Regions from separate parts of the Homo sapiens genome. Here all the other regions are linked to region 4. Evidence: fine-mapped QTL for protein levels in blood plasma. A gene starts in region 4. Each other region holds a variant in brackets. All regions are shown on one strand. Distances are between the middles of the regions. Region 1 overlaps LOC107986836 (a long non-coding RNA gene). Region 2 has its middle 610 kb from the start of LINC02903. Region 3 overlaps NRCAM (neuronal cell adhesion molecule). Region 4 holds the start of NRCAM (neuronal cell adhesion molecule).

The links. PIP is the chance, under the fine-mapping model, that this variant and not a neighbour inherited with it causes the effect. The UK Biobank Pharma Proteomics Project read protein levels with antibody pairs (Olink). The fine-mapping took linkage between variants from a reference panel, not from the people measured, so its PIPs are less certain.
Region 1: its variant is fine-mapped to the plasma level of the NRCAM protein (UK Biobank, PIP above 0.99).
Region 2: its variant is fine-mapped to the plasma level of the NRCAM protein (UK Biobank, PIP above 0.99).
Region 3: its variant is fine-mapped to the plasma level of the NRCAM protein (UK Biobank, PIP above 0.99).

The regions. Positions count from the first base shown.
Region 1 is chr7:108,798,500-108,806,642 of GRCh38, forward strand. The region is part of intron 2 of LOC107986836 (a long non-coding RNA gene); the gene reads left to right. Among named protein-coding and RNA genes, the nearest start is that of LINC02903, 82 kb to the right of the region's middle. The variant T/C (reference allele first, on the strand shown) is at 2,987.
Region 2 is chr7:109,487,479-109,495,621 of GRCh38, forward strand. No RefSeq gene overlaps it. Among named protein-coding and RNA genes, the nearest start is that of LINC02903, 610 kb to the left of the region's middle. The variant A/G (reference allele first, on the strand shown) is at 3,385.
Region 3 is chr7:108,276,132-108,284,274 of GRCh38, forward strand. All of the region lies in intron 3 of NRCAM (neuronal cell adhesion molecule), which reads right to left. Among named protein-coding and RNA genes, the nearest start is that of LAMB4, 150 kb to the left of the region's middle. The variant C/CTTCCTGTTTA (reference allele first, on the strand shown) is at 4,172.
Region 4 is chr7:108,449,448-108,457,499 of GRCh38, forward strand. It overlaps NRCAM (neuronal cell adhesion molecule), which reads right to left and starts at 6,989. Exons shown (of 33, transcript NM_001037132.4): 1 at 6,796-6,989.

The DNA.
Region 1 (8,143 bases), 350 kb after region 4:
AAACATATTCTGAAGTAGGTATTATGACTTGTGTGTGAAAAGATGGGTAGAAGGTTGAATATGAATTTGAGATATGTATGAAAAAAAAAGACAAAACAACTGAAGCCTATTCCGTGAGTGGAGCAGTGTGAGTGTCTCTTAGGGAGAAGCCCTTGTACAGTGTGAAAGGAATTTTCTGCTGTCTTTGAAACTTGCTTCTCTCTAAGGTATTTTGTGAAATTATTAGGAACAGAGCAGGGCTCAGCTTTAGTAAGGTTTTGATTAGTGTTTGAAAAGCCTTCAGAGTTTGTCTTAGATGCCTATAATGGGTGAAAGTAAACTGCATATCATAAATCATACCAGTTTATTAGTAGTAGGTGGAATAAATCCTGAAGTGAGTGAACAGAGAATTAATGAGAGTGCTTTATTCCTAAAGCACTTTATAAGATATATATGCAGTGAAGCAGCTGCAAGTAAAAGGTCTGGCAAGAGGTAGAAGAGGGAGGATACTGAGTGAGGTGTCATTCTCTGAAACTACAGGTATTTGCCACCAAACACCTTGATTTGGGGACCTGGGTTGCTCAGTGTTGCAAAAATAGCAGGTTGTGTGTCTGAAGAGATTATACAAAACGACTGGCTGAAAAGGGTCAATTGTTGTTTTTAAAAGTATTTATCCTGGGTTCCTAGCATCCATGAGCTGAATTTGTTCCTCAGAATGCATTGGGAGACCGGCAAGAGACTAAAGGAAAACCAATATGTAAAATGAGAGCTCATGAGTTTTGTTACCCCTAACAACCCCATACTGCCTCTTCCTAGGAGTCACTCTTATTTCCCAGGTCTCTCATGGCATCAGGATTTTCCTCCTCCCTGGCCCTTTAACAGCTTGTCAATACACGCAAATGTCCACATACTTAACAGCTATTATAGCATCCCTTGATCTTGAGTCCCCCTCCCGCTCAATATTCTTTCTATTTTTTTGTAGCCAAATGGGAAAGAAAAGTCTATTCTCACCACCTTGGCTCTCCTCAACTTCCTGGGATTCTCACATCCATTACTGTGCGGAAGTGGGCTTCTCCCAGGTGACTGGTAGCCTCCCACCAACAATATCAGTCGCATCCTCCAGGATCCTATGGCTTTTGAGTCACTACCATCTCTCAATTTTCCTGTTAACTTTTTGACTACTATTTATCAGTCTCCTTCCAGGCTTCTTTTACTTTTTGGAAGCCTGTAAATGCTGATATTACCAAAGGATGAGTTGTTGGCTCTGTGACACTCTCATTCTCATATTCACTGCCATGATCTCAAATATCATGATTTCCACAAATTCTATCTCTAACCTAGACTTCATATCTGAGCTGCCGATTATCATCTTCACCTGGTTGGCCTTAAGGGCATCTCAAAGGTCACACAGCTAATTTCTATCTTCAGGTAAGTTTTCTCCATCCTCTTAATAGAATTACTTTGCAGTCACTCCTGCTGGAAACCTTGCCATTTTTGACTCCTCCTTTTCACACTCCCGGGAATCAATCAATGAGTCTTGCTGATAGCACATCAGAATTAACATCGCAATTTCCTTTCTCTTCCTCTGTTGTTTCTGACATTCCCTTCATATGTGTTGCCTCATTTCTCAACTAGTTTAAATAGGCTCCTAATAATGTTTTTCCTCTAGGCATCTCAATTCTTCCCTGCACTTCTACCATATTACTTTCTCTAATCATGTCTCTTTCCTTCTTAAAACAATGAATCTGTATCAAGAGCATCAAGTTAATTACCATGGTGTTTAAGGCACTTCATAATCTGTTTCCAGGCAACATTTTCAACATTGCATTGTTTTTAACATATACATTTCTTTTCCACCACACTCTCAAATCTTGTCTTGAACTCCTAAGTATTGAATCATACTAGACTACATGTTATCACCCAAAATATGCTGGGTGCATTTGAGCCTTGATTATTTTGCATATACTTTCTCCCACCCCTCATTTGGAATTTAGTGTTGCTGTTCTTTGCCTCCTGGTCTCTCCTTCTTCAAGCCCAGCTCATGTGTCCTTGCCTCTGTGTAAACTTCCTTAACTCCCAATTCCAGAGGCAGAATGAAATCCCATTCTCCCCTCCTCCCCCTCCTCCCTTCTCCACCCTTCCCTTCCCCTCCTCCCCTTGCCTCTACCTCTCCACAACTCCTTCCCCTTCCCTCCACCTCTCCTCTACTCTCTCCTCTTCTCTCGCCCTTCCCCTTTCCCCTCCCCTTCTCCCCTCCCCTGGTCTCCTTTCCTCCCCTCTTCTCCCCCTTCCCCTCTCCCCTCCTCCTGTCCCCTCCCCTCCTTTCCTTCCCTCCACCTCTCCTCCACTTCCCCCGCTGTTGTCCCCCCTCCCCTTTCCTCCTCCTCTCCTCCACTCCCTTCCTTCCCCCTTCCCTCCCCTCCTCTCCCCTCTTCTCCCCTCCTTTCCTCTCCTCTTTTCTCCTCCTCTCTCTTCTCTTTCTTATACTTCGAGAAATCATGGAGCAATGTGGAAAGGTCATGAGTTCTGATGTCAGAACAACTTCAGTGCCATTCATAGCTTCTCTACTTTCTAGCTCTGGACATTTAGTAAGTTATTTAAACTTTCTTTTTTTTTTTTTTTTTCAATTAAACCATCTGTAAAAGGGGTTGTTGATATGTGTCTACCAAAGATGCTAATATTTATTGAGAGTTTACAGTGTGCTAGTTACTCTTTGAGGCTTTTGACATGAAGTAACTCATTTAATGAAGAGTAGTTTTAAAGAGTCTATTGTATCATAACCATTATGCCAGCAGCAAAACACTTATCACACAAGGTCACTGTTCCTGATTTATGAGGATCTTGTACCCCTCCAGAATGTGTTCTTTTTGAAGGTAGAAACTAACTTCTTCATCTATCACCTTGTCTGTCTGGCAAAGCACTAGCATAAAATAGGTGCTAAATAATCACAGAGCCATCAGCAAAGCAGAGTTGGCTGTTGAACTGATATTGTATTAGATGCGACTTT[T/C]TGTTTGGCAAATGGGTTTCCATATTCATACCTAGGAATATTCTAGTGAAGAGTAAATACAAAGACAAGTTTTAAAATGCTATCTCTCTGTATTAAAATAAATACAACAAATCACTTTGTGGTAAAGTTTCTTAAATATTTTTAAATAAATGCTAATTTTATCCCCATATTGACACATGCTCTTATTTTTGATAGGACTATTTTTGTATGGGGCAGAGTAAATAATTAAGATTAAAACTGGCCAGGTTTCTAGTGAGAGAAAAAGAAAAAATGTATTGTATTTGGAGTTTTGTGAGTTTTAAAAAATTGCTTCATTTTGTTTTAATGATATCAGATTGGTGAAATGTTCAATATTGACATTTACTATTATAATTTGAATTTCTTATTCAAATGGCAAATATCTGATGGGAACTCAGAATGCTCGACTAGGCCTGTTCCATTGGGTCTTTAGTTAACCCGGAAAATGGAAGAGTCAGTCAGGATTGGGAATCTTGAGGGTCCCCATAGAGAGATTGTTCTATATTCCATATCTGTTTCATGATGATCCAAATGAGTCAGGAGAATGGGGTCTGGAGGCAGGGAACTTAAGGTCCATTTGTGATGAATCAAGGAAAAACATCAAGGCCCTGGGGCAGGGAATCTGCGGCCAATTTATGCTGACTTCCCAAAACTGGATCAAAAGGAAAACACCTGGGTCTGGGAGCAGGGACCTTAAGGCCAATTAAGGCAAACTTCCAAAAGCTGAACCAAAAGGAAAAACCCCATCTCCCCATGTCTAGTAACAAAGGGTCAAAGGCTACTCTCCCTACAACCCTACCGTTTCAGTTTCACCGCTTCTCAGATGGAAAGGGATAGTGTCCTGGATTAGCTGTGGGCCAAGCAGGGACCATCCCTTCATTTGCATAGGGCACCAATTCACCTCAGCCTTTAATTAGCCATAGGCCAAATCCTTCATCCAGATAAGGAATAACTGGTAGGAACCTCAAAAGGAGTACTTAAAACACAGAGAACTTTATAACTGGGCCCTCGAGCTGCTTGCTCGGCTGACTCCCACCCTGTGGAGTGCTTTCTCTCTTTAATAAATTCCTGCTTTCGCGGCTTTGTTCTTGTATTTTGTTCTTTTGTTACTTTGTGCATTTTGTGCAATTCTTTGTTCAAAACACCAAGGACCTGGACAACTTACACTCAAAGCTCTTCTTCTGATAATACAAGTAGACTGAGAAAGATTTGGGTGTTTTCTTTTGTTCATAAAGGAAAGGGATGTTGGGGTAGAGGCATATATCTGATTGTCCCTGATTCTGCTTGTCAGAGATTGTTTTGCACCACCCCACTTCACGGCAAAGCAAACAGAACAGGTCCTTTAAGGGGCATTCCAAAGAGGAAGTATAGGCATGTCGCAAAGTGCTAGGGAAACTCCATCCTGAAAAGTCAAGTCCCCATTAAAAGGAAAGTACTAAGTAAAGAAAAGGAATTTGGAAAGAAAATAAAATAGGACTATAACTTGGGTAGCTTGTTATTATTATAAAAGTCTCTTTTTTTTTGAATAGAAGAAGTAGAATTTAAAAGTTTAGGATCGTTACTCATTGGGGTCTGCTTTCTAACTCTCTGCTGAGATTTACTTATCATCTAAAAGCTGATGCCCCAGATCACTAGCCCAAACCTGTTTCTTCAGCTCTAGATCCATACATTCAACAGCCTAGTAGACTTCATACTTTTATGTCTCAGAGACAATTCAGCCTAAAACAAAACTTAATTCTTTCCCCCTTCCCCTTCTTTCTTCCCTTAAATTCCTATATTTCCAAGCTCGGTGGATGGCATTATTGCTTAGCCTCCTCCGAAGCCAGAAATGTAGGGATTATCCCAGATTTTTTTATTTCTCTGTATTCCACATCCGACTGGTCAGCAAACCTTATTCAATTGACCTCTGATATGGCTTGGCTCTGTGTCCCCACCCAACTCTCATCTTGAATTGCAATCCCTGTAATCACCGCATGTCAAGGGAGGCACCCAACGGGAGGTGATTTGATCATGGGGGGGCGGTTCCCCATGCTGTTCTTATGATAGTGAGTGAGTTCTCATAAGATATGATGGTTTTATAAATGTCTGGCATTTCCTGTGCTTGTGCTTCTCTCTGCGGCTGCCTTGTAAAGAAGGACGTGTTTGCTTCCCCTTCCACCATGATTGTAAGTTTCCTGAGGCCTCCCAGCCATGCAGAACTGTGAGTCAACTAAACCTCTTTCCTTTATAAATTACCCAGTGTCGGGTAGTATCTTTATACCAGTGTGAGAATGGACTAATACAACCTCTTTAGTATCTCTAAATTCAGGTCATATTTTCCCACTCTATCCTCACTGCCTTTGTTTAGACCCACGTCATTTCTTGTCTTAAAAACTGCAGCAGCCTGGGTCATCATGATATCTATTTCCTTGCCTGCATAAAATAGTGGGCCCTCCCTCCCTCCCTGCTTCCCTCTCTCCCCCCTGCCTCCCTCTCTCCTCCCTGCCTCCCTCTCTCCTCCCTTTGTCCTCCCTTCTATGCAGACAAAACACACAAGAAATAAAATCAAAGTTCTCTTTCTGAAATCTTTGCAATGGTTGTATCAGCCCTGTATCAGCCCTGCAATGGTTGTATCAGCCCTCATTGCTTTGATTTTGCTCTGTGAGGTGGTTTTGAGGAACAGTTTTATCTTCAGGCTGTGCTTTATGGGAAGGTTAGGGGAGCTTGACTCTAAATGGAATCTGGAAGAGAGTAAGATTCCAATAGCTTGTTCTGCCAGTTTCCTAAAGCAATAAAAACCACAAGCCTACCCATAGAGGGGTTGGACTGCATATAGGGGTTAGCAATTCTCCCCAAGCTGTATGTGTCTTCCCTTGATCTGCATTTTATTTCTCTGCTTGTCCTTCTTGGAGAGCCTACTTCTAGGGAGACAACCTGTCTGATACAGTTAGAGCATCCAGAAAACTCTCAGAAGAGCTCTCATCATTGTAGTTTTGTTATTTTCTCCTTTCTTTCTTTTTACATTTCATTTTGTTAGGTAGGAGGAACTAAGCCTAAAATTTGTTAGGTTAGGTTAGCAAAATGACTAGATGTTGCTACACTACTAATTTGTTTGTGAGATTCTCTTTCCAAGCTACGTAGATCCTGATTCTAATTAGCTGACTTGGAATTAAACTAGGTGAACTTGATTTTCCCCACAGAATCCAGTGAATTTTTTCTCCCAGTCTTCTGTGACTTCAGCACATCTGGGAAGTGATACTTTTATTATTCCAATTTGATACTTTCACTTTTTTTCTTAAAAGCCTTAAAAGGCATATGATTACCTTTAGTGTAAAATTTATGTTGAATGATTTGCTTTCCAAGCAGTGTACTGTGACCTGCCACGCTTGTCCTTTTCTACCTTCCATTCCTTCTGCCTAAGTTCCCCCCGCTCCTCAGTACCATGCATTTCTTCATCTGACCCTGTCTTATCCAATATTTAAAAGTCATCTCCAGTGCCATCTGGTCATGGAAGGATTTGCTTATTATCATTATTTCTTCCCACTTCCCACCAAACGTGGTGTAGGTAAATTTCCCATGCCCTCATAAAAAGAACCTGGTACTTACTTTTGTCCTAGCATTGGTGTACTTCTTGATCTCACTATCCAACAGACTAAGAAGTCCAAGATCACAAGTTTGACTTATTTGGTTTTGTTGTCTTGAGTCTAATACAGTGCCTGGGGCTTAGTAGTATTAAATATACCTTTGTTGACTAAATTTAAGAACCAAGTATAGGTCCCGGGGTATGCTGTTTTCAGTGAAATTTCAAACCATTTTTCCACAGGTAACCCGATACCTTCCAGTTTGTGTCACACCCTGTGAAAGACTCTTTGGACATTAAAGTTGGCCTAAATATTTCATGTAGTGCATCATATACAATTGAGGCAAGAAATTACCCATATAAATCTATGATGTTTTAGGTGACATGTATAAAGAAAGGATATTTAACATGATTATAAGTTAAGACTCATTAAATATTTTTAGAGTCTGACTGGATTATAGCTCCTTAGAGAAGAAAGAGAAAGTTCATAATCTACTATAGCTAAAGCTTTTTGGTTCACTTGGGATGGCACTGAATTAAGACCAAATGTTTATCCATCAATTGTACAAATAGACGACTTTTTCGTATATTATCAGAATAGATATTAACAAGGTTTGGTTTACTTAATTGTTCGCATTGAAATGATTGAATTGACTGAAGTTTTTCTGATCAGGTTCATGTGAAACAACAACACACAGGAATAGGAAGGGCAGGGGACAAAGCCCTCCGTCTCCCATATTGCTGTCTTATTGTCACTTTGTCAACCTTGATTTGTTGCATGAAAGTGGCGCAGTTGCAGTAAACTATCTCTCCATCTTTCATATTGGCCAAAAATGCTTGGTTTATTTACCTATTTTTGGAAAGTCTCAAAATGGAGGCCACAGATCTCTCATTGAGTGCCCAGTAGTGATGAGCTGAATCTGCCACTAGGTGTCATCGAATTTTCAAACAAATGGCTTTAAAGAACATTTCACTAAAAGCTAGCTTCAAGCCCCAGATTTTTGTTGATCCTTTTCATGGCGTCTTTGGAGTAAGTAATAATGCTATCATTCATCTGAACACATTTGATCTATTTAAATTTTGAAATTTATTTTGCCTTATCCAGCCCGTTGCATTGTGAACTGTTGCTTACAATGCGTGAATGGTACTTTTCATAATGCAATACTGATCTCGTCTTCACTTAAAAGATGTGAAAACTATTCAGAAGCACAAAACAATATATACTTAATAGACTTTCCATTACAGAAAGCTAATAAAAATTCCAACATGAATAGATTTTGCTTAGGAAATTACATTTCCATTTCTCTTGGGAAAAATGGGTACTTTATTTTTTATGTTCCTTCATAAATGACTACAAAAATTGCACAACTTCTGTGCATTCTAGAGTTGTGCAGCAATTTTATCAACTTTTAAAAAAGTGCTACTAAATTTTTGTTATCAATTACAAACTTTCCAATATGAACTCCTGATGTGTTGTTCATACTTTACCAAGGCTGTACATGCTGTTTTTCCACCAAAAAAAGGTAAGATTAAATGTAAGAAAAGGTAATCAGTAAAGCATAGCAATCCCTCACTTGCAT
Region 2 (8,143 bases), 1.0 Mb after region 4:
TATGTCTTTTTCTCCTTAATAAATTTCAAATGTATCCACTTACCTGAATCTTTACCACCCCAACTCTAGACCAAACTATTAACCATTATTGTAATCTCTTACTTAGCTTAATTCAAAGTCCTCTTCATTGTCTACCATAGGTAATTCTTACCCTGTCATCTCCATTGACAGCTTCTATTCTCTTATCAAACTTTTCAACTATTACCATTGCATATAGGACAAAATATAATTCCTTCAATATTCTTTGCAATCTGGCCCAAATCTATCATTGGTTGTGGTAATTAACTAGGAAGGGGAAAAAAGTACATTCATTAAATCAAATTATATTTAAAATTTAGACCAATTCTCTGTTACTGAACTGGCAAAAGGAGGCCATTTTGTGTTTGTGGTGAACATGCACTACATTATTACAAGGATGAAATTCTTTATTAGGATTAGGAAAATTATACTAGAACATTGAAATGAGCAGCATATCAGGTGGTGTGGGGCTCTAGAAACAGGAAATCAGGGACAGGATGAAAGGAGACCTTGAGCAGTCACCTTGAGGTGAGTCTCACATTGGCATAGGCTGAACTCTGTGCATGGAAAGCACAGGGAAAGTTTGGATGCTGCAGATTTAAATTCAGGCCAGGTGTGCAGACATCCAGCAATGAATTAAGGTAAATTATGTGATTGGCAGAATAAGGTGGGGGTAGTACAAACTGGCTCAAGGAGCTGTTGAATATGAAAACTAGGGATGAAGCAAGTTCAGGAGTATGACCAGAGCTGGATTCTGAACACGCAGGTATGCCCTACTGCCTCATCCCCCTTCCCATCCTTATTCTGCCATTCTAAATATGATCTAATTACATAGAAATTCATTTTGAGATTATGCATATTACTTTTTTCTATGTTGCTGCAGACTATGTTCAGTAGTTCTTAATTTTTACATGCAATTAGAATCACCAGAGAAACTCCTAGAATTTCTGATTCAGTGGGTGTGGATTAGGGCCCAAGAACCTGCATTTCTAATGAGGTTACAGGTGATGCTGATGCTATCTGGAGACCACATTTTTAGCACGACTGGGATATATTTAAGTGTTGTAAAGATATAGAAAAATCCTAATTCATCTGAACTCCCTTTGGGGAGGGCGTACTGCATATTAGGAAGAAATATTAGTGTTTGGAGAGGGGAATGAGACTCCAAAATGTATGCTTAACAGGGTGGCTTCTCATTCAGATACTACTGTTCATTAGAAGCCTCTTTGCTTTTCTGAGCTTTGGCATGAATTGGGATATGCATGTCTGTGGAGCAAAGCTAAGGCTGAATTTAATCTCTCAACATTAAAAAGAGACAAGGAATTAAAATATATCAGAAATAGAGTGGAGAGGGGCCAGCAAGAATTCATGCAGAGAGGAGAAGAGAAGCAAAAATAAGTCTCTAAGCAATCGTAAGCCCCAAGTGGAACTTAGCAAAAGGAAAATGTGTAAGGGATTTTTAAGCAATTAGCTCTGGGTAAGTGAGATTATAAATGATCAAAAATGCTTTGAAGCAAAAGAATCCTTTGCCCCAGTTGAAGCATAGTGCTGTGTGGACACAGGAATCAGAGGATGAGGGGGAAGCCGATAACTGGTTAAAATAGTCTTATAAAATAGGATTAAAATAACAATTTTACTATTTAAATTAAAGCTGCAATTATGATGATATTTTCTCTGTCATATTTTAACATTTGCTATGTATGCACCCTTTTCAAATGAAATAAACATTTCAAAGCTGTCAACTGATAAGAAATTAGAATTATAAATCTCAAGAGCTTGTGGGACAAGTAGATCAGGTAAGAAGGAATATTCCTTCAAATGATGAAAAATAAACAAGTTCCAACTCATTTAATATCCCATGTTTCTAGAGACAAATTAAAGTCAAGGTCATAATATCTAAGAATATTCCCTTGTTCATAGTCATTAATTCCCAGACTTATTCATCTTTGCTAAAATAACAAAGTGCTGACCTGACTAGTTAATTAGATAAGCAAGAAGAGAAATATTTTACAAAAACAAAATAGTAAATGATCTGGAGATCTTTGTTTTTAAAATAAAATCTTCACCTCTCTTTTTCTAATCTTAGAATATATACCTTTATGGAAAAAGTAAAAATATAGAAAATTAAAAATCATAAAATAAAAATCAGCTGCACTGCAAACTGGTACAGATATTTTGGCATATTATTTACTTATATCTGTTCTTGTACACATCACAGAAAAAAACAATTAAATACTCTACATTCAAAACTGCATTTATATGTCACTTTATTTTTATTTTTGACTTTTCAGCTTCAGATGTTTCTCATATAAGCAGTATATTCTTAAAACATATATTGCTTTTATCCAAATCAGATAGATGTTCTTTCTTAATGGGAAGTTTAATTATTTTCCATGTGCTGATATTTGGTATGTTATTTTTATGTATTAGTATTTATACTATTTAAAATTATTTTCATTAATTGTCATATTAATTATATAGGTATATATTGGTCACATTTTTAAAATGATTTAGTGTTTATATAGTAGAGTTTAAAATATTACATGTGATTAAATTTATTTTCAAAGTTGTCATGTTCAGGATGAATATCATTACTTACAACTCCCTCAATGTAAAATGAAGAATCTAGTATAATATTCTCTTGCTCTCCAATTTCTCTCAAAGAAATATGAACTCAGTATATACACTCAAGTCATTATTATTAATTTGGGGGGGCATCAACGTTTAAGAATCATTAATGATGTTTTCTTTTTGTGATTTCATTCCCATATTGTCAAATATTTTTGTCCCTCATACTAGCATTATGATACGCTAGTATATCCCCTGGCACACTGGTGTGCAAAAGTATTTGTTGAATTAATAAGCAATCTAAACTTAATATAAAATAGCCATCACAAAGATGAGAGATACAATCAGGGCTTATGCCATTCTATAAATCCATTCTTCTCTATTTCGGAGTTTATATTTTCAATTAGTGCATTTTCGGGGCAGGTTACATAGATCATTTTTTATTCTGTGTTCTAATTTTGTATGTCCAAAAATCTTTTCACATTGCCCTTCTACATTAATGACAAGGTAAAAATAAACCAGGATTGAATGAGTTTAAAATAAACCAGGGTTACATGAATTTTCCCTAAAAGTGGTCTCATTATTTATATATGTGTGTTTATTATTTTATTTTCTTTATAATCAAAATTCAAGCCTTCTTCAAAATATGTCAAATGAGTGTTCTTTTAGTATTATTTGAACCTGGAGTACAGTGAATTCTTGCAGTCAGCAGTTTACTTTAAAAAAAGTAAAACATCCTTTTTTATGGCTGCATAGTATTCCATGGTGTATATGTGCCACATTTTCTTAATCCAGTCT[A/G]TCATTGATAGACATTTGGGTTGGTTCCAAGTCTTGCTATTGTGAATAGTGCCACAATAAAAATACATGTGCATGTGTCTTTATAACAGCATGATTTATAATCCTTTGCGTATATACCCAGTAATAGGATGGCTGGGTCAAATAGTATTTCTAGTTCTAGATCCTTGAGGAATTGCCACACTGACTTCCACAATGGTTGAACTAGTTTACAGTCCCACCAACAGTGTAAAAGTGTTCCTATTTCTCCACATCCTGTCCAGCATCTGTTGTTTCTTGACTTTTTAATGATCGCCATTCTAACTGGTGTGAAATGGTTTCTCATTGCGGTTTTGATTTGCATTTCTCTGATGGCCAGTGATGATGAGCATTTTTTCATGTGTCTGTTGGCTGCATGTCCTTTGTAGGGACATGGATGAAGCTGGAAACCATCATTCTCAGCAAACTATCGCAAGGGAAAAAACCAAACACCACATGTTCTCACTCATAGGTGGGAATTGAACAATGAAAACACTTGGACACAGGAAGGGGAACATCACACACCGGGGCCTGTTGTGGGGTGGGGGAAGGGGGAGGGACAGCATTAGGAGATATACCTAATGTTAAATGGCGAGTTAATGGGTGCAGCACACCAACGTGGCACATGTATACATATGTATCAAACCTGCACGTTGTGCACATGTACCCTGGAACTTGAAGTATAATAAAAATAAAAAAAAAGAATTTGCAAAAAAATGGGCATGGACATTCTTCGTAAACAATAAAATACAAAAATAAAAAATGAAAAAATAAAAAAAGTAAAACATCATGGAAATATTTTTGAATATCACAACATGTTTCTGTTTTCTTTATGCCAGTTTATGTCTTAAAATGTAGTTCATCCGTGATTTAGAACTACACTCTCTCTATATTCTCTGCTTTTGATATTCATCATGTTTTTCACAGGTATTGTGTTTAAGGATATTTTTAGTCTATTTTCCAAATTGTGGATTTGACTTTGCGTATGACAGAATCTGTTCTTTCTTAACTCTTATGCAAATATGTTTTCTGCTTACGTCTTTAGTTTCTTAGCATTTGTTGTATATATAAACCAGTTCTCATTTTATTTAATCTTTAATACCTTATTTTAGGCAGACTATTATTTGTTAATATTTCTGAAAACTCAAACTGAATATAGTCTTACCTATACTGATGTATCCTGTAGTAAATAGTTTTTATAGTTCTACTTTCCTTCTGCTTATTTTAGGGAAACAGTTCCATGCTCATGTTACAGAATATCTTACAAGCCTCTCTGTCTATATATATTTTTTAAGCCTCTATATTTTTATTTTTCATTTTCCCCACCCTCCAATGTATACAATTCTAAAGCAGTAGAGATCTACTTTGATTAAGAGGTTGCTGATTGTCCCTCTATGCTTTATTTATTTCCACAGATGTTTATTTCTGAGATCTTAAGTTATATTATTTAGATAAGTTTTGCTTAGGGCTTACTTTCCCCACTTTGTATTAAGCACTTATATCATGTAGTTCTGCTGCCCTGACATGAGGATTTTACATTTTTTCATAGCCTTTTTCTGGTCTTAATTTGAAGCAATCTGTAGGTTTTGTTTTGTTTTGTTTCTTTGCATGCAAACACTATTCTTTCTAGAGCATACAGCTGTCTGTGCTCATTTCGTTTTTCCTTTATTTTACTTTAGATGACTTAACTCAGAATAAAAGGCACCATGACAGATCCCCTTCTGTCTCAGACTGTGTGGCCTTATAGAATTGTCTGATCTGGTATATAATAAGTAGTGACGCTGAGAGGAGGAAGCAGTTCTCCAGCAATACACAGAGGCTTCCTTCAGGAGGAAGACTGACCTAGAATCTTTGATGGCACAGGATCTAAGTCTTCGATGTGGAAGTGAGGTTGGGAGGAAGGCTTCTTTTTCTTTTTTGTTCCCCAACTCTTTTGTTATTTCAGAAATCAGTGCGAGTCGCTATTTTACAATATCCAAATCTGACCCATTCATTTGTTTGAAAATTCTGTTATCCTAGGTAAAAGAAGCAGCATGGCTCAATGCATTGTGGCTTGAGGAATCATAGTGATTCTAGGAACTAAAATGTAGTCAGCTGCACCAGAGCACGTCAAGCGAGACTATGATGCAAAACAAAGCTAGAGGATCCAACAACACAACGCATCTTAACAGGTGTAAAATATCAGCCCTGTTTAACAAATGTTGCCTTTCTCCTAAGAACAGTGGTGAGCCATCGATTTCCAGTGGTTTTCCATTTTTCCTAGAGTAAAAACCAGACTCCTCTCCCTGACTCATGAAGTCCTGTATTCCAACAGGCTTTGCCTGCCTCCCTGGCACCATCCACTCTATTTCTCCGACCTGCCCTAGCAGCACTGCTCCTCTCTCCATTTCTCAAAGATGCCAAGCTTGATCTCACCTCAGAAATTTTGCACAAATGTTCTATCCTTCACAAAATTTTTATGTGGATATTCATGTTTGCTCACTCTTGTCATTCATAGAGACATTCTTTGACTCCCTGCCCCATTCTGAATTTTTCTTTTGTATTAACTAGCTGTAATTTTCTGCAGAGTCCCTATCACTAATATAATATATATATATATAGAGAGAGAGAGTAGCGATGTGTGTGTGTGTGTGTGTATAAAACATACATATTATTTATGTTTTGTTTTGTTTTCTTTGCGTGCTTATTGTCTATTATCTCCACTCACATAAGCTCTGTTCAAATGGAGGTCTTGCCTATCTTGTTTACTGTTTTGTTGTTGTTGTTGTTGTTGTTTTTATCAGGGAAAAGAAAAGTATGTAATATTAAGTATGAGCTCAACAATATTTATCATATGCTAAATGGAGTCTTCTCTTCCTGGCTTACATAATAGGATGCATATATGAAGTTTCACAAAAATAGAAAATACTAGAAGAGGCCCAGGTTTGCAGTGAGGAGTTGGGAGGGGAACATAGTACATTGCAAATGAGATACTATTGGGACAAAAATGAAACAGGACAATTACTTGGATGTGGGTAAGAAATATCACTTGAATTGTGAACAAATGATACTTAGGTCTTGAGTGAAGATGGAAATACCTAGGAAGAGATTATGGGTTCAGATCATGATATTGTTTTATAAAGCTTCTGCACACATTTAAAGTCAGCGATATTCACAACACTAGTGGTAGTCAAGGTTCTCATAAAAGTTGATAATGATGATGGTGATGATGATGACGATGATGATGATATGTGTGCATAAACTTGGAATTCCAAAACAAATTCCTAGGATTTGAATCTCAGCTTTGTGTGACTCTTAACTATTAGTTAACTCTCCTGTCTCTTACTTTCCTCATCTATAAAATGGGGTTAATAATGCTTTACACCATATTGGTTTCTTACAAAAATTAAGATAATAAGACATCTAAAACTAATGCCTAACCAGTAGAAAATTTATGCTAGTGTGGTAATTATAAACATTTTTATGTCTCTCTCTTTTTCTCTTTCATACTGGTATATAGTTATATATCGCAAAATGAGCAATTCGAACTGAAATAGGCAATTTACATGGAAATGTACATATAATTGTGTAATCAAAACACCAATTTAAATATAAAACATGTCCATCACCCCAGAAATTCACTCAAGTCTCATTCTACATAATAACCTTTCTTCCTAAAGGCAAATCCTATTTGGAGTTCTGTTTTGCCTGTTTATGAAATTCGTAATAACAGAATCTTACGATATGTACTCTCTCGTGTTTGGCTTTGTTTGCTCACTACAAAGGTTTTGAAATTCTTCCATAGAACATACATAGTTCATTCCTTTTTATTGTTAAGTGCCACATCATCATGTGAAATTATCAAAATTTGTCTCTTCATTCTTCCATTGACAAAATGAGTTGTTGCCAATATTTTGCTATTCCAAATAAGGCTTCAAAAGTCACTTTTGTAGAAGGTCTTTAGTCTGACATATATTTTATTTTACTTTGGTTAAATATATTAAAGGGCTGGGTGCGGTGGCTCATGCTGGTAATCCTAGCACTTTGGGACGCCGAGGCGGGCGGATCACCTGAGGTCAGGATTTCAAGACCAGCCTGGCCAACATGGTGAAACCCCATCCCTACTAAAAATACAAAAGTTAGCCAGGCCTGGTGGCCGGCGCCTGCAATCCCAGCTACCTGGGAGGCTAAGGCAGCAGAATCGCTTGAACCTGAGAGGCAGAAGTTGCAGTGAGCTGAGACCGCACCACTGCACTCCTGCCTGGGCAACAGAGTGAGACTGTCTCAAAAAAAAAAAATACAAAACAATAAAAACAAATGAATTAATTAATTAAAGCAGAATTTAAAAATCATTGCATAGATACACATTTAACTTCTTAAGGAACTATTAAGTAATTTCCCAAACTATTTGTACAGCAATATATGAGAATTCCAATTGATCAAAATTCACTCCTACATTGAGTATGGTAACATTAGTAAATTTAGCCATTCTAGTGGGTAGAAAATGGTATTTCACTTTGGTTTTAATTTGTATCTCCCTGATAGCTATTGAACATTTTTTCCCATGTATTTATAGGCCATTTATATTTCTTCAAATATAAATTTCTTCATATATATTTCAAAATCCATTAAGTGTCATCCAAGACATTTGCTCAGTTTTAAGCTGAATTTAATGTGCTTTGTGTCATAGGTTCAGAGGAGTTTTAAAAAATATTTATTCTGGATATTAATCCCTTGTCATGCATATATGCATTGTGAATATTTT
Region 3 (8,143 bases), 170 kb before region 4:
TGAGGAGTGTTTTACTTCCAATTACGTGGTCAATTTTAGAATAAGTGCGATGTGGTGCTGAGAAGAATGTATATTCTGTTGATTTGGGGTGGAGAGTTCTGTAGATGTCTATTAGGTCTGGTTGTTCCAGAGTTGAGTTCAAGTCCTGGATATCCTTGTTAATTTTCTGTCTTGTTGATCTGTCTAATATTCACAGTGGGGTGTTAAAGTCTCCCATTATTACTGTGTGGGAGTCTAAGTCTCTTTGTAGGTCTTTAAGAACTTGCTTTATGAATCTGGGTGCTCCTGTATTGGGTGCATATATATTTAGGATAGTTAACTCTTCTTGTTGCATTGATCCCTTTACCATTATGTAATGGCCTTCTTTGTCTCTTTTGATCTTTGTTGTTTTAAAGTCTGTTTTATCAGAGACTAAGATTGTAACTCCTGCTTTTTTTTTTTGCTTCCGTTTGCTTGGTAGATCTTCCTCCATCCCTTTATTTTGAGCCTATGTGTGTCTGTGCACATGAGGTGGGTCTCCTGAATACAGCACAATGATGGGTCTTGACTCTTTATCTAATTTGCCAGTCTGTGTCTTTTAATTTGGGCATTTAGCCCATTTACATTTAAGGATAATATTGTTAGGTGTGAATTTGATCCTGTCATTATGGTGCTACCTGATTATTTTGCCCATTAATTGATGCAGTTTCTTCATAGCGTTGATGGTCTTTACAATTTGTCATGCTTTTGCAGTGGCGGTACTGGTTGTTCATTTCCATGTTTAGTGCTTCCTTCAGGAGCTCTTGTAAGGCAGGCCTGGTGGTGACAAAATCTCTCAGCATTTGCTTGTCTGTAAAGGATTTTATGTCTCCTTCACTTTTGAAGCTTAGTTTGGCTGGATATGAAATTCTGGGTTGAAAATTCTTTTCTTTAAGAATGTTGAATATTGGCCCCCACTCTCTTCTGGCTTGTAGGGTTTCTGCAGAGAGATCCGCTGTTAGTCTGATGGACTTCCCTTCGTGGGTAACCCGACCTTTCTCTCTGGCTGCCCTTAACATTTTTTCCTTCATTTCAACCTTGGTGAATCTGACAACTATGTGTCTTGGGGTTGCTCTTCTCGAGGTGTATCTTTGTGGTGTTCTCTGTATTTCCTGAATTTGAATGTTGGCCTACCTTGCTAGGTTGGGGAAGTTCTCCTGGATAATACCCTGAAAAGTGTTTTCTAACTTGGTTCCATTCTCCCTGTCACTTTCAGGTATACCAATCAAATGTAGATTTGGTATTTTCACATTGTCCCATATTTCTTGGAGGCTTTGTTCATTTCTTTTCACTCTTTTTTCTCTAATCTTGTCTTCTCGCTTTATTTCATTAATTTGGTCTTCAATCACTGATATCCTTTCTTCTGCTTGATCGAATAGGCTATTGAAGCTTGTGTATGCTTCTCAAAGTTCTTGTACTGTGGTTTTCAGCTCCATCAGGTCATTTGAGGTCTTCTCTACACTGGTTATTCTAGTTAGCCATTCATCTAAGCTTTTTTCAAGGTTTTTACCTTCTTTGTGATGGGTTAGAACATGCTTCTTTAGCTCGGAGAAGTGTGTTACTACCAACCTTCTGAAGCCTACTTCTGTCAACTCGTCAAACTCATTCTCTATCCAGTTTTGTTCCCTTGCTGGTAAGGAGTTATGTTCCTTTGGAGGAGAAGAGGCCTTCTGGTTTTTGGAATCTTCAGCCTTTCTGCTCTGGTTTCTCCTCATCTTTGTGGTTTTATCTACCTTTGGTCTTTGATGTTGGTGACCTAGAGATGGGGTTTTGATGTAGATGTCCTTTTCATTGATGTTGATGCTATTGCTTCCTGTTTGTTAGTTTTCCCTCTAACAGGCCCCTCCGCTGCAGGTCTGCTGGAGTTTGCTGGAGGTCCACTCCAGACCCTGTTTGCCTGAGTATCACCAGCGAAGGCTGCTGAACAGCAAGTATTGCTGCCTGATCCTTCCTCTGGAAGCTTCATCTCAGAGGGGCACCCACCTGTATGAGGTGTTTGTCAGTCCCTACTGGGAGGTGTCTCCCAGACAGGCTACACAGGGGTCAGGGACCCACTGGAGAAGGCAGTCTGTCCATTATCGGATCTCAAATGCAGTGCTGGGAGAACCACTGGTCTCTTCAGAGCTGTCAGGCAGGGACGTTTAAGTCTGCAGAAGTCGTCTGCTGCCTTTTGTTCAGATATGCCCTGCCCTAGAGGTGGTATCTAGAGAGGCAGTAAGCCTTGCTGAGCTGAAGTGGGTTCTGCCCAGTTTGAGCTTCCCTGCCACTTTGTTTACACGGTGAGCACAGAACCAGCTACTCAAGCCTCAGCAACGGCGGACGCCCCTCCCCGCACCAAGCTCCAGGGTCCCAGGTCAATCTCAGGCTGCTGCACTAGCAGTGAGCAATGCTCCGTGGGCGTGGGACCTGCCACACCAGGCACAGGAGGTAATCTGGTCTGCTGGTTGTGAAGACCATAGGAAAAGCACAGTATTTGGGCAGGAGCATACCGTTCCTCCAGATACAGTCACTCACAGCTTCCCTTGGCTAGGAAAGGGAAATCCCCCTGACCCCTTGCGCTTCCCCAGTGAGGCGACACCCCACCCTGCTTTGGCTCGCCCTCCATGGGCTGCACCCACTGTCCAACCAGTCCCAGTGAGATGAACCAGGTACCTCAGTTGGAAATGCAGAATGCAGAAATCATCGTCTTCTGTGTCGATCTTGCTGGGAGCTGTAGACCAGATCTGTTCCTATTCGGCCATCTTGGAAGCGACTCCAATAATCCTGAATTCTAAAACTCCTCTTAAGGAATAATGAACTTGGACTCCCATTTTACAGATGAAAAAACTGAGGCTTGAAGAGTAGCAGTGTCTTGTCAAGGCCCATATAGAAAGTAAGAGGCCAAGCCACTGAAAGAAGGTTGTCTGCTTAGAAGGCACTCTTTCCATTATACCAGGTGACGAGAAAACACACCCAGATAAAGACTATATGGTAAGAGATGAGTTATTTGGTGTTAATCTGAGTGGGTTTCCTGGCATAAGTGTAGCATGACTAAAATCGCTGGAAAGTCTCTGATTACATGAATATGATAGTGGCAGATTTTTCCTTGAGATTAATAATAGTTTTATCAATTTTATTTCCTTTGTTTTTATTTCCTGTTGGTGAAAATATTTGACATTTTTACATACTCACAAATCTAACAGAACCCTGTTTTGTGTTTCATAATTGTTGTAGTTTGTTTCATGTGCCTTTAAACACTGATATTCTCAAAGTACAAAATATATGCATAAATACAGAAAAATATATATTTTCTATCTGGAAGTTTGGGAATTGGGGAGATTTATGCCCTCACCCACAGTGTGACTTATGCAACACTGTTTTTTTTTGGTTGTTGTTTGTTTGTTTTTTGAGACAGGATCTTGCTCCGTTACCCAGGCTGGAGTGCAGTGGTGCGATAATAGCTCACTGTAGCCTTGACCTGCCGCCTTCCCCCATCCCCCCTGCCCTCCCCACCCACCCCACCCCTGGGCTCAAAGAATCCTCTCGCCTCTGCCTCCCAAGTAGCTGGCACTACAACCATGTGCCACCACAGCCAACTGATTTTTTTTTCCAATTTTTGACAGAAGTCTCACTGTGTTGCCCAGGCCAGTCTCAAACTCCTGAGCAAGTGATCCTCCCATCTCAGCCTCCTAAAGTGCTGAGAAAACAGGCATGAGCCACCATGCCCAGCCTGCAACACCATCTTTATGCTGCTTAAAGGAGGAGAGTATTATTTGTAATTTAACAGCTACATAAATGTGGGCGGAGTGTTTTAAAGAGGAGTCTGAGCATCAATGCAGAATGGACACTGGTGTCCCACATGTTCAGCTGCACACTCCGCTTCAGCAGCCTGGTCCAACATTCACCATCAAAAACAAATCTTAGGTCTCTCCAGGTAATTTTTGTATCCAAACCATTTAATAGTGAATACAATGAAAGCCCAGAATAAAAAGACACCAACAGAATCCTGTAGGTTAAAAGCTGGCCTGATCTCAACATCAGTAGGTTCACAGTTATTTTGTTTGGTAGCTCAAAATAAAATTATTCTTCCCAACAGGCGAATGAACTTAGAAGCGCTAGCAATTCTGGCTCCTTTCACCAGAACAAGCTGCAATCTGCAATAAACAGGAAGAGG[C/CTTCCTGTTTA]TTCATATGTGAGGTAAAAGCCTCTCTTACTCCCTCTCTGCCAAGGACGATTGCCAATGCAGTTTTGATAAGTAAATAAAGAATTACTGGATGGCCAAGAACTACCACCCTAAGCATATCCAGCAGTCAGCCCATGCTATTCAATTGTGCTACAACTACCTTTAAAAAGAATGACTGAACTCACAGAATGGTAAGAGTTGGAATGGAGACCTCCCACTGGACAGCAATGAAAGATGAAACCCTAAATATATCTGAAGTGAATTTTTTCATTGAACTGTCTCAAAAATCATGATGAGATTAACCTAGAACTCTCATATTTAGTTTCTTTGGTGCTACTGAAAATAGTTTGACCGTTGTCCATTTTTAACTGGACTGGGGGAAATAACAATGTCATTGTATTTTACATAATGAAATAAAGGATCTGGCAACACAGCGCAGCTGTTATAAAGAAGACACAAATGCCACCTTAATATGATTTCTTAAATATATAATAAGCTGGGTTTTAGTCTGGGTCTGTATGCTCACTAATATCAAGTAAAAAAAATGAATTATCTTCTGCATGAAGACAGGGAAGGTAGACAGGGAGGCAATGGTCTTTTATGCTAAAAGCTCTTAAAAGTCAGGAAGGTATTCAATATTTAAAAATTAAATGATGAAAAACCTGTTCTGAAGTCCCAACAGTTTTTAGATATGGGTTCCTTTTGTAAAGGAAATAATCTGCTGTCTGCTCTTTGGTATAACACAATAAATATGATAATTACTTCATATAACAGCTTAAATTAAATTGCTTTTGAATGACTGTATTTGTTTCCATTTTTAAATATCTAAAAAATTATAAAATATAAATCTACCTTTTCCTCTTAACCTGATGAAATGAGCAAAATTCAATACCTGAGTAATTTCTTGTCTTCAATTATATAGTTGTTTACATATATAACATGAACTTTAAATATGATAATAACCTAACTACACATTTTATAAATGCCTTTACTTTTATTTTAATATATTCTTTTTTAATCCCAACACTGTGGGCAATAAAAAAACGAATGATGAGCATTATCAAAAAGTTCCGTGTATAGTAGGGGAGATAACAGGAGACTGTGCCATAAATTACTAAAATACAAGGAATAAAGGGATAAATGGTACAGGAAGGCATGACGTGCTATGAGAGTTCAGAGAAAAGGAAGCTATCTTGAGATTATGAATCAAAAAGGTTTCATGGCATAGGAAATATGTGAATTGGATCTTGGCAAAAATTTGAAAGGATGGCAGAGGGGTCTAGCTGGCTGCCCAGGAGCTAAGGGAGGGGTTATACACTTGGACCCACCAGAAAGGCAGGGTAAAGCCCCAGTGGCAGTTGGGAGGTGGGGTGTGGGGAATGGAGGGTCTCCAGGGAACTCAGAGCTATCAGCATGAGATGGCTGCCAAGCTTGGGGCTTCTCTGACCATGCCAGCAGGCCTGAGCCGGGGAAGGGGCAAAGCCTTGGCTGCGAACACAGTTGGAAGTTTTGATGGGCAAACTGGATGTAATAATAACCAAACTGGGAGTGTTTCAGGAATTCAAATGTTTGGAAGATTTTTGATTAAACACAATTGGGTGAAGTAAGTGTCTGAGATTTCTTCCAGGAGCAGAACTGCCCCACAGAGCAGAAGTGTAGGAGCAACTGTGGGAAAAATTAAAGTTGTTATGTCATTGCCCCCTGTGAGTCCTGTCTGACATAACAGTTACATAAATATGGAATAGCTTAAATAACAAGCAGCCATGTATGATCACTTATTTAGTACTTCTGGATGTACCCATCTCTTTATAAAGAGTACACAAACTTAGTAGTATAACAAAGTACAGTATAAAGAACAAAAGATATTATTATACCATTTCTAATGAAAGGACTAAAATTAAGATTTCCAACAGAGAATGTAAGCAGGAAACCACTGTTAGGATTTCTCCTGTAAAACACAAGTTGGAGCACTTTACTAATGTCTGGGATGAGCTGATGGATACCTCAGTGCTTATCTCTCTTTCTCTTTCATTTCTCTTTAAAGAAAGAAATCTATACACATTTTCTTTCTGGAGACATGATTACCAGAAACATATAACACTGGGGCAGTAGCACTCATCTACCTATTTTTTTAAAAGAAATTTTTGCTTACCTGGAACTTGCTAAGAATAAAGTTAACATGCTTATTTTTCTATTTGGTACTTGGAACAATGTTAATGTACCTCAAAATTTTAGTGTAAAATCAAATGTATTTTCTATCAAGCTAGACATTTTTATATATTCAAGGTTTTGTTGTTTTCTGGCAACTGGCCAAAGCAACCCATTTATAAAAGAAATTGGTATTTCTCTCCTGGCAGAGATAAGAGCTCTGTCAGTCATCCTTTGCGGATTGTTCTCTCATGAATTGGGGGCACAGGGAGAAAAAGAGAGAATACATGACAGTTAAAAACAAATTTATAACTACATACACATCTCAACGTAGAAACAATTAGTCATCACTAGTAAAAGACACGACCTTCAAATGCAAGTGAACTTGAAAAACAGTAGTTCTCAAACTCTACTGCACACTAGAGCCGCCTGGGGAGATTTGAAGACTCCCAGTGCCCAGGCCACAGGCCCTATCAATTAAATCAGAAGTTCTGGGGGTGGGACCTGGGCACCAGGATTTCTAAAACTCCCTAGATGATTCTAATATGCAGCCTACTTTAAAAACCAGTGTTTAAAAATGCTTCTCTGTTCCCTACTCTCTAAGTATACTGACTTTCTGTAATCAAAGTTAAAACTGTCTAAGAAAATGAACAAACAATGTAAGAATGTTGTGAGAAAGTCAGCTATACTGATTTCATATCACACATCATTAAGCTTCTAAGAGCTAAATTTTGGTGGTGGGAAGTTGGTTTTAGAATTCTTCAGATTGTTAGTGAAAGACTATTACATAACTGTCTTTAGTATGACCTAACAGTTGAATTTCAAAGTATTCTGCAAATATGATTTGTGTGCTTTGCAACTAAGCAGAAAGTACAATTACATGAGTGATCATAATATTTGGTAGAAAGTGATTTGTGTCACAGAGATGTACAGAAAAATTGCTATGATTGCCAAGGAAAGGGAGAGATGAATGCCAGATTAGTCACAATTGAAGGTGATGCCATCTGATGTGGACTTTGAAGCACTTGTTCCAGGAAAGGAAAAGGAGCAGGAGATGCGAATGAGGGGCACACGTGGGAAACAGAATGGTTCAATTCGACAGATGTCAGGAGTAAAAGGAGATAGGTTTGGAAAAGGCTGGATCACTTCCAGGAGGGTCCTGAATGTCTAAGTCTGAGGCTCCTGGTACAGAGAATGATATTATCTACCGTGGTCTCACTTGGCTTTTCTGCAGTGTGTGGCACTGTTGACCCCTTGCTACCTTCTTTTCAGTGTTCCACTCCCTTTGGTTCCACAATCTTCCTTCACATTTTAGCTCTTGAATGTCCCTTTTCCAGCTCCCCTTACAATTCTCTTACTCCATTCATCCTGTATATGTCACTCATTTCCAAATTCTTGTTTTGTTTTGTTTTTTGAGATGGAGTCTCACTCTGTTGCCCAGGCTGGAGTGCAGTGGTGCGATCTTGGCTCACTGCGACCTCTGCCTCCTGGGTTCAAGTGATTATCTTGCCTCGGCCTCCTGAGTAGCTGGATTACAGGCACACACCACCAAACCTGGCTAATATTTTCTATTTTTTAGTAGAGACGGGGTTTCACTATGTTGGCCAGGGTGGTCTCAAATCCCAGCCTCCCAAAGTGCTGGGATTACAGGTGTAAGCCATTATGCCCAGCCTCTCATTTCCAAATTATATCACATTTCTTAAATGTCTCTTGTCCGAAAATTCTATTCTACTTTGTCTTTGTTGTTCCTACTATAAACATCTGATGTTTGAACTACTCTCATGTGCTTGGACTCCAAGCTGAAACCTAAGTCATCCACACTCCT
Region 4 (8,052 bases):
CTTTCAGCTCTCTATTGAGGTAAGGGACTGAAAAGGCACACCAGGTTTTGGAAGGCAGCAGCGGACTCGCTCGCAAGCCATCCTTCCTCAAAGAACCAAAAAACTCCAGGACAAAACTCTTTGGACAGGCCACTCTTACCTTAAGGCATAATTAATGGGAGATTAGTACTTCCCCTTTCCCTTGAGAGAGAATCTGTTAGTGGTGTTGAATATGAGTCTGTAAATGTTCATCAAAAATGCATGCCATAAATCATGCCATTCAAATGCCAAGGACATCAAAAAGTGGCATGAAATTAGCTTTAAAGTTGAAATTTGGAGAAAAGATCACTACATGCTGAATACTCATACTGAATTTTTTGAATGCTCTCAGCCCACTTGAGAAAGATAAATCAAATTCATTGCATATTACCCAGTGGAAGACCTCCTACAGGATTCCCTCAGATTGCCCTAGAAATAGATTTTTTTTTTTTCTGGTTACAGTGGGTTTTGAACCAACACACTATGCACATAATAAAATTTAAACATATATATATATTCAACATATATATATTCAAAATATAGTTTCCAGCCCTTCCTACCATTATTTAATGAGAAGAATTTCAAAAGGATCATTTTTGCCTGACAGTACCTGTCATTTTCATTCTCATGTGAATTAAACCATGTTTTAGTCCAGGGCAATATGGAAGAAATTCGGAGAGCACATAATACAAGTAAGATTCATCATTCCTGTGTTCGAACTGAATATGCCATTAGGACAGTATGTGAGTACAGGAGCATTAGTGGTTATAATTTGTTCCCTTTACCACTGGCTTTTTTTTTTTTTTATCTTCACTAGCTTCTTAGTCACTTGATGGAAACCCTCCATCAGACTGTTAAAAATTACCTTTTTCTAATTTGAAATTCCAATCTTGTAGGCCAGTAAAATAGGTCAATTAAGTTGACACCACATCTTTTTTATTAGCTCAGCTAAGCAATTATAATTGGGTGGTGAAGGTTTATGCTGTCATCTTGGAAGATTCAATGGTAGGGAGAAATGCCCAATGTGGAACTATAATTTACAATGCCAGTACATCCCTAAACATTCAGCATAAGAATATTTCTATTTTCAGATATGAGGCAAATTTGCTCTTGTTCTAGATTAAAATAATAATGCCATTTTTTGGCAGTAAAAAAAGCATATTTATTTAACTTATCCTCATAGCAAAATCATTTAGCACAAGTGTATTACAGACATAGGTACTTTAATTCAACATTTTAGAAAAATACCATGAATGTATGCCATCAATGCTGGCTTATCCTGGACTTGGACTACAACACATATGCTCCACAACATCAATTTCTTGCTTTGCACAAAGTATGTAATCAATTAATACTTGTTGAAAACCATATACCTCCATATTAATAAATGTTAAACCAATAAATTAGAAATGCTGTGAATGACTTGTTCAGAATATATAGATATTAATTTACAGCTTTAAAAGATAACAGTGGCTGGGCGTGGTGACTCACGCTTGTAATCTCAGCACTTTGGGAGGCCAAGGTGGATGTATCACCTGAGGTCAGGGGTTGAAGACCAGCTTGGCCAACCTGGTAAAACCCTGTCTCTACTAAAAATACAAAAATTAGCTGGGCATGGTGGCAGGTGCCTGTAATCCCAGGTAATCAGGTGGCTGAGGCAGGACAATCACTTGAACCAGGGAGGCAGAGGTTGCAGTGAGCCGAGACTGCAGCATTGCACTCCAGCCCAAGTGACAGGGCGAGACTCCGTCTCCAAAAAAAAAAAAACAAAGAAAGAAAAAAAAAGTAACAGTGATTGCACTTCAAACCTATTAGGATGGCTATTATCAAGAAAACAGAAAATAACAAGTGTTGGAGAAAATGTGGACAAACTGGAACCCCTGCGCATTGTTGGCAGAAATGTAAAATGGTACAGCTACTATGGAAAAGAGTATAACGATGTCTCAAAAAAAAATAGAACTACCATATGATCTAGCAGTCTCATTTCTGGGTATATACCCCAGAGAATTGAAAGCAGTGACTCAGATATTTGTACATCCATGTTCATGGCAGCATCATTTGCAATAGCCAAAAGATGAAAGTAACCCAAGTATATATGACATATGAATGGATAAACAAAATGTGGCATATACATACAATGAAATATTATTCAGCATTACAAAGGAAGGAAATTCTGACACATGGATCAACCTTGAAGGCACTATGGTAAGCAAAATAAACCAGTTACAGAAAGACAAATAAATACTGTATGATTCCACTCATATGAGGTACTTAGGGTCATCAGATTCATAGACTGGAAGTAGGATGTTTGTTGCCAGGGGCTGGGGGCTGAGGGGTTATGAACTATTGTTTAATGTGTACAGAGTTACAATTTGGGAAGGCAAAAAATGTTCTGGAGAGGTATAGTGGTGATGGCTGCACACAATGTGAATGTACTTAATGCCACTGAAGTATACACTTAGAAATAGTTTAATGGCATATCTTATGTCATATATATTTTACAATAAAAAACTTAGCAAAAACATTTTTTAAATAAACATATTGCATTTGCTGCCCCATTTAAAGACAACCTGATAATGAAGGATTTACAGTTGCTGACGCTGAAGGCTGAGCCATTCCCCTATTTCCTTCCTCAGGTAGCCTTCAATTTTAAGAGAAAAAATAAAAATTTGTCAATTCATTTTGGTACATCTTCCTATTCTTAGAAACTTCAGTCAAACTCATAGAAGCAGAGAGTAGAATGGTGATTGCTAGTGGGTAGGGGAATTGGGGAGATGAGATGTTCTCACCACACATACACAAATTAACTGTGTGAGGTGATAGATGTGTTTATTAGTTTGATTGTGGTAATCATTTCACAATGTATACATATATCAAAATATCATGTTGTACATATTAAATGTATACAACTTTTACTTGTCAATTATATCTCATTAATGCTGTGGGGGGGGGAAGAAACTTCAGCCTTTGATCCCAATAGAGGCTGTTTTAAACAGAAGGAGCTTTTCATTTGCCAAGGCAGTAAAATGTTTAAGTAAAATAAGTCACTGGATTTTTGCCCTTAGCATCCAGTTCTCTCCTCTGTCCTCACCTGCCAGGAAGGTTCCTGGAAGGGATGCTTCAGGTAGGGAAGCATAAAATTTTAAGGGAAAAGCATATCTAAATGTATTTAGTAATTTTCAAATCACTTCCTCTTCATCAATCATTGCAACAGCTGAAGACTGAAGTAAAGCAGTCTTTTGATTCAAATGCACAAAACTTCCTAAAGAATATGTTAGAAGCTCTACATTCCAGTTAAATTTGCTATGGGTTACCGAGCTTCTCAGATGGTAGGTACTCTTTGAAAATGAGGATGAGATTCCAATAGCTGCTGATCTATGGTGAGAATATAAGGAAAAAGCCTCAGTGCCTCAGTGGTTACCCTTTGGGGTGAGTAATGACTGGAAGGGACCACAAGAGGGCTTTCTCAGATGTGCATTACACTGTTCCTTGATCTGAGTGCTAGTTAAGTCAATGTGTTCAGTTTGTGCAAGTTCATCGGCTATGCATTTGTGATATGTGAAAAAAACTCTGTGTGATGAAGTATGTAGCTAGATGATAAAATTAGAATTAATCTTCCCAAGGACAGATATTCTGTTTGGTCACCACTGTATCCCCACTGCCTGGAACACAGTAAATATTTATTAAAGAATGAAGGAATGAATGAATGAAATCTTTTTAACGGAAAAGCTTCCTGTAGAGTTCCATTCAACAGCTCCTATGTACATACACAATATAATATCTGTAGAGTCTATTTATATTCAATCTGTTACACAGGGAAAATTACACCTGCATGAAAGCATTATTTGAAATGATTCTTGAAATTTTCTACAGCCCAGGTGTATACATTCTCAGGACCCCCTCACACTTCTGAAGCACTTACACCTAGCGATTATTGCCATCATTGTTGTATTGGCCTCACAGGAAGTACTATTTCCAAAGATGCTTTGCTTTCTATTCACTGTTACCGTAGCATTAACAAAAATGATGTGGTGTAAGGGCAATGGCCTTCAGTCCAAAGACCTCATCACTACCCTGCATTACGAGGCTGAGCCCTATTGCAGTTGTTTTGAAACTCGAAGGATTAGTTAGATACAATGTTGCCTGAGTCCTCTAACAGCTCTAAAATTCCTGGATTATGTAAAATGTTTAGCAACTTTCCTGTAATAAAGTAAAAAGAAGGTTGAAACAAGACTATGAGTCAGTAGGATTATGAATGCAAAATAAATCAATTTTTCCAATTGATCAGTTAATTATAATTCTAAAAGCTATTCCAGAAATAGCTGATTCCACTTTGGTTCAAATTTTCCTTTTTTACTAGTTAACATGGAGCATCTTCATAAATGCCCCCACATGTTTCTATATATTTAGGAAATAGAATGATTTCCTAAGATTGGATGCTAGGGTCCTATTCAAACTCAACATCCAATTTGAGGAGTAACTCATTTGCAGTCAAAACCGTGTACAAAGGACATTCAGGGCTGGGGACCTTTTCTTTAAAGAAAAAAAAGTTTTATGAAACTTTATGATGTGCCAGGAACATCTATGTAATCACAGAGGCCCTGGTTACTAAGAACATGTTGTTCAGTGACTGTAATGGGTTGGATTGTGGGTTAACAGCCACGTACTTAAAAGCTAACAGGAATAAAAGAATATGTAAAGGAGTTACATGGGAATAAAAGGCTATTCCACAATACAGTTCTCTGAATCACAATATTGCCTGCTACTGTGAGTTCTGCAGAGCTCCGAATTAAATGGGCTTGTAATGTATCTCCCTGGTTTTGAACACTCAGTGGTTTAGGTTTCCCCTAAACTGATAAGCCTCCAAAAGGCCACAGTCTCAGTCTTGGATTGTAAAGCACAAGGACAAAAACAATCCCACTCCCCTACTTCCTAGCTGTGTGGCCTTGGGAAAGTTACTTGGTTTCTCTAAGCCTTCATTTCCTAATTTTTAAAATGGGGTTGCTGTGAGAATTAAATGAGATGATACATGTAACATGCGCAGCGCCCAGCACATCTAAAGCTCTCAAAACCGGTTGGCTATCGTTACCATTAAAGCAGCAAGTATCAGTTGCCTAACTCCATTTCAGTACTTCAGCAAGTACTGCCATTATTACAATATTTTAACAGCAGGGCATGGTTAGCACAATGCAGTCCCATAAAGCAGCCCAGCCTCCGAGGTTTGTATTCAGAGGTTACTGTGTTCCTTTCCAGGACCACCCCAGGGGGAGCTCCTGGTGCACAACCAATGCTTCCTGCCTCATTACACTTGGCTCCATCTCCTCCTGCAAAAGCCTGGGGCGAGGAAGAGCCCAGTCTCTTAGACCCGCACTTCTGAGCGTTAACCATCTGGGACTCGGAAAGGAAAAGAAAGCTTTCTTCTCAGGACAGTTCTGCGCCGGTGGTAGCCAAGGGCTGGAGCCCCTGATGCGAAGAAAAGGGAAGGAGAGAGGCGGGGTGCGAAAGAAACGCCACCGCTCGGCGCCCTCCCTCGGTGCCCGCGGCGCAGGGGCCACCCGCCAGCGTACGGGGGACGAAGATGTGGCCGCGGGCGCGGGCGGGAGGGGAGGCGATCCGGGGAAGGAAGCGGCCTGTTCGCCAGCCCCGGGGCCCGGGGAGCCCTCCAGCAGCGCTTGCGGCCCTGAGGACACCGCTTTGGGAGAAATGACGACTCCCTTGCTCACCCTACTGCGACACCCCGTCCCCCTCCGCACTCTAGCAGATGCGGGCCGGGAGTAGCTGAGCTGGCCAACCGCCTGGGACCAGGATGCGGCAGCGCCCACCCGCGCGGCGTGGAGGGGGCCGGGGGCGGCGCTCGGCGCAGATGGCGCTCGCTGCGAGATGGATGCTCCAGGGCGGGTAATCACTCCTGGCTCAACACAGCATCCCGGGCGGAGCGGATGCCAGATCCCACCGCTAAGAGCCTGGGCTGGGAAAGCAATCTTTCCAGGCAGCCCCCAGCCCGGTGCGCCGGCCCCGACAAGTCCCAGCCCTCGGAGGCAGGGCGGGGCGCAGGGACTCCCGGGACCCGCACCTGTAAGGCCGACAAAGCCCCCGCAAGCGCCCCACCCCTCTGTCCTCCGTGTCTCTCTCGTTCCGCCTCGATTCCCCGAGCCCTCTCCAGGCAGCGACTGGAGAAGCGAAGTCGGCCTCGCCCCCGAACTCCGTGGTCAGCACAGGTGTACGCACTTCCGAACAAAGCCCACGCCCAGACGTGTCCGCAGGGGCCCGAACAGGCACACGCCCGTGCGCTCCCGGCCCGGCCCCCGCGCTCCTCGCCCCGCCGGCACTGTGGCGTGACGCCCCGCGCCTCCGTGTCCAAGCCCGGGAAGCCGCCGTGCCGGGCCCGCAGGCTCTCCATGCCCAACTGCCCACGAGCAAGAGCTCTGGGCAGGGCTTCCCGGAAAGCGTGGGGTGCGGGCGCGGAGCAGAAGTTGGCCACAGGCTGGAGGGGGTGGTGGGTGCCGGCGCTGCTGGATTTCAGCTGTGCCTTCACCCAAGCGCAGGTCCCCCTGCTCCCTCTCGGCGCCCGCGGGAGTGTCGGGGGCCTGCAGGGGAGAAGGGAGTTGGAGATCTGCTTTGCCCCTCCTGCAGCGCTGCCAGCCCGGTGAGCGCTCGGCTGAACCCCGCGGCGGTGTCCAAGTGACAACGCAGCAGCCTCGCGCGTCCTCCTCCGCTCCAGCCGTCACCCCCGAGCAGGACCCAGTGTCACCGCCAGACGCGCAAGGAGCTACTTACGTTCTCGCGCCGCGCCCTCCGCTCAGCTCTGGCGCGACTGCCCAGGACCCTGGACCGCCGGTGTCCTCCGTTCTCGACGAAGCTATCCCCTCTGGCTGCTCCAGCCAGGCGGCCCCTGCGCCGTCCCCCGCGCCCGCGCGTCTGAGGCTCGGACTGCGGCGCGCGTCCGCCAGCGACCCTGGCGAAGCGAGGCTGGCCCCGCGCCGGCGCGCGCCCCCGCCGCTCCCGCCCTCTCCGCTCCCCCTCCCCGCGCCGTGCTTTTGCCCCTCCCGGCTCTCCTTAGCGTCCTCCCGTCCCCCTCCCCCGCACTCCCTGCGGGCGTCCTCCGCCTCCTCCCCTCCTGGCCAACCCCCTCTTGCCCTGCTGCTGCGACGGCAGCGAATGGGCTCCAGCCGCCGGCGCCTCGAGGGACTGGGTGGCCCCTCACCTGAGCGGCCGCCCCACCGCCAACCTCCGTCAGCCTGCGAGCGCGTGTGGCGGCGGGGGTGGGGGTGCGGGGACGGAGGGCGGGAGTGTTCCGGGGCTAGGATGGCTGGGATTTAGCTACAAAAGATGTTCCAGAAAATGGGTAGTTTTTGAATGCCACTCTCATGGGTTTAGCTTTCTGTGGGAGGTCTGTGGTCTTCTAGTTTTTTCTTTTTTAAAAAGCACTTTCTTCGAAATTCATCAGTTGGGGTGGTTGAGATTGGGTGAGTGGTTTTGGGGGTTTTGTTTTGTTTTTGCAACCGTTCTTTCCAAACACTCCCCGCCGCCCCCCACCACCGCAGAAAAAAGAGCTTTTAGCATAAGGCGGATGCTATCTATCCGCGGTAGAAACTGGGTCTTCTGGTCCCAAGGAATAGGGTTAGTTCGGATTTGCTTATTTACAAATGGGGGAGTATTATGGAGATTTTTTTTTTTTTTTTTTGGCAATGTAAATCGAGAATTAAGATTTTCCAACTGTATAGTATTTGAGTAAACACACTGCTTGCTGCATAGTTCAGGCTCCGAAGCGCACGTCTCCACTCTATCGTGGATGGTGTTCAGGATCCTTAGCCTGACCCTTGGGTCCTCCGTAATCTACTCCGGTCTGCACACAAATTACTTGTCTGCTGGGTATCACCCGACTTGACCACTTACAGCAGGCTCCAGCGCTTAGTGAGCTCAGCGGAGCCTTGATTCCTTCAGTTCTCTAATTCAGGAAAACATTTTCTGAGCTCCTCACCACCCCACCCCACCTCACCACCTCCTCCACCCCCAGCCTCCAAGGTGCTGGGG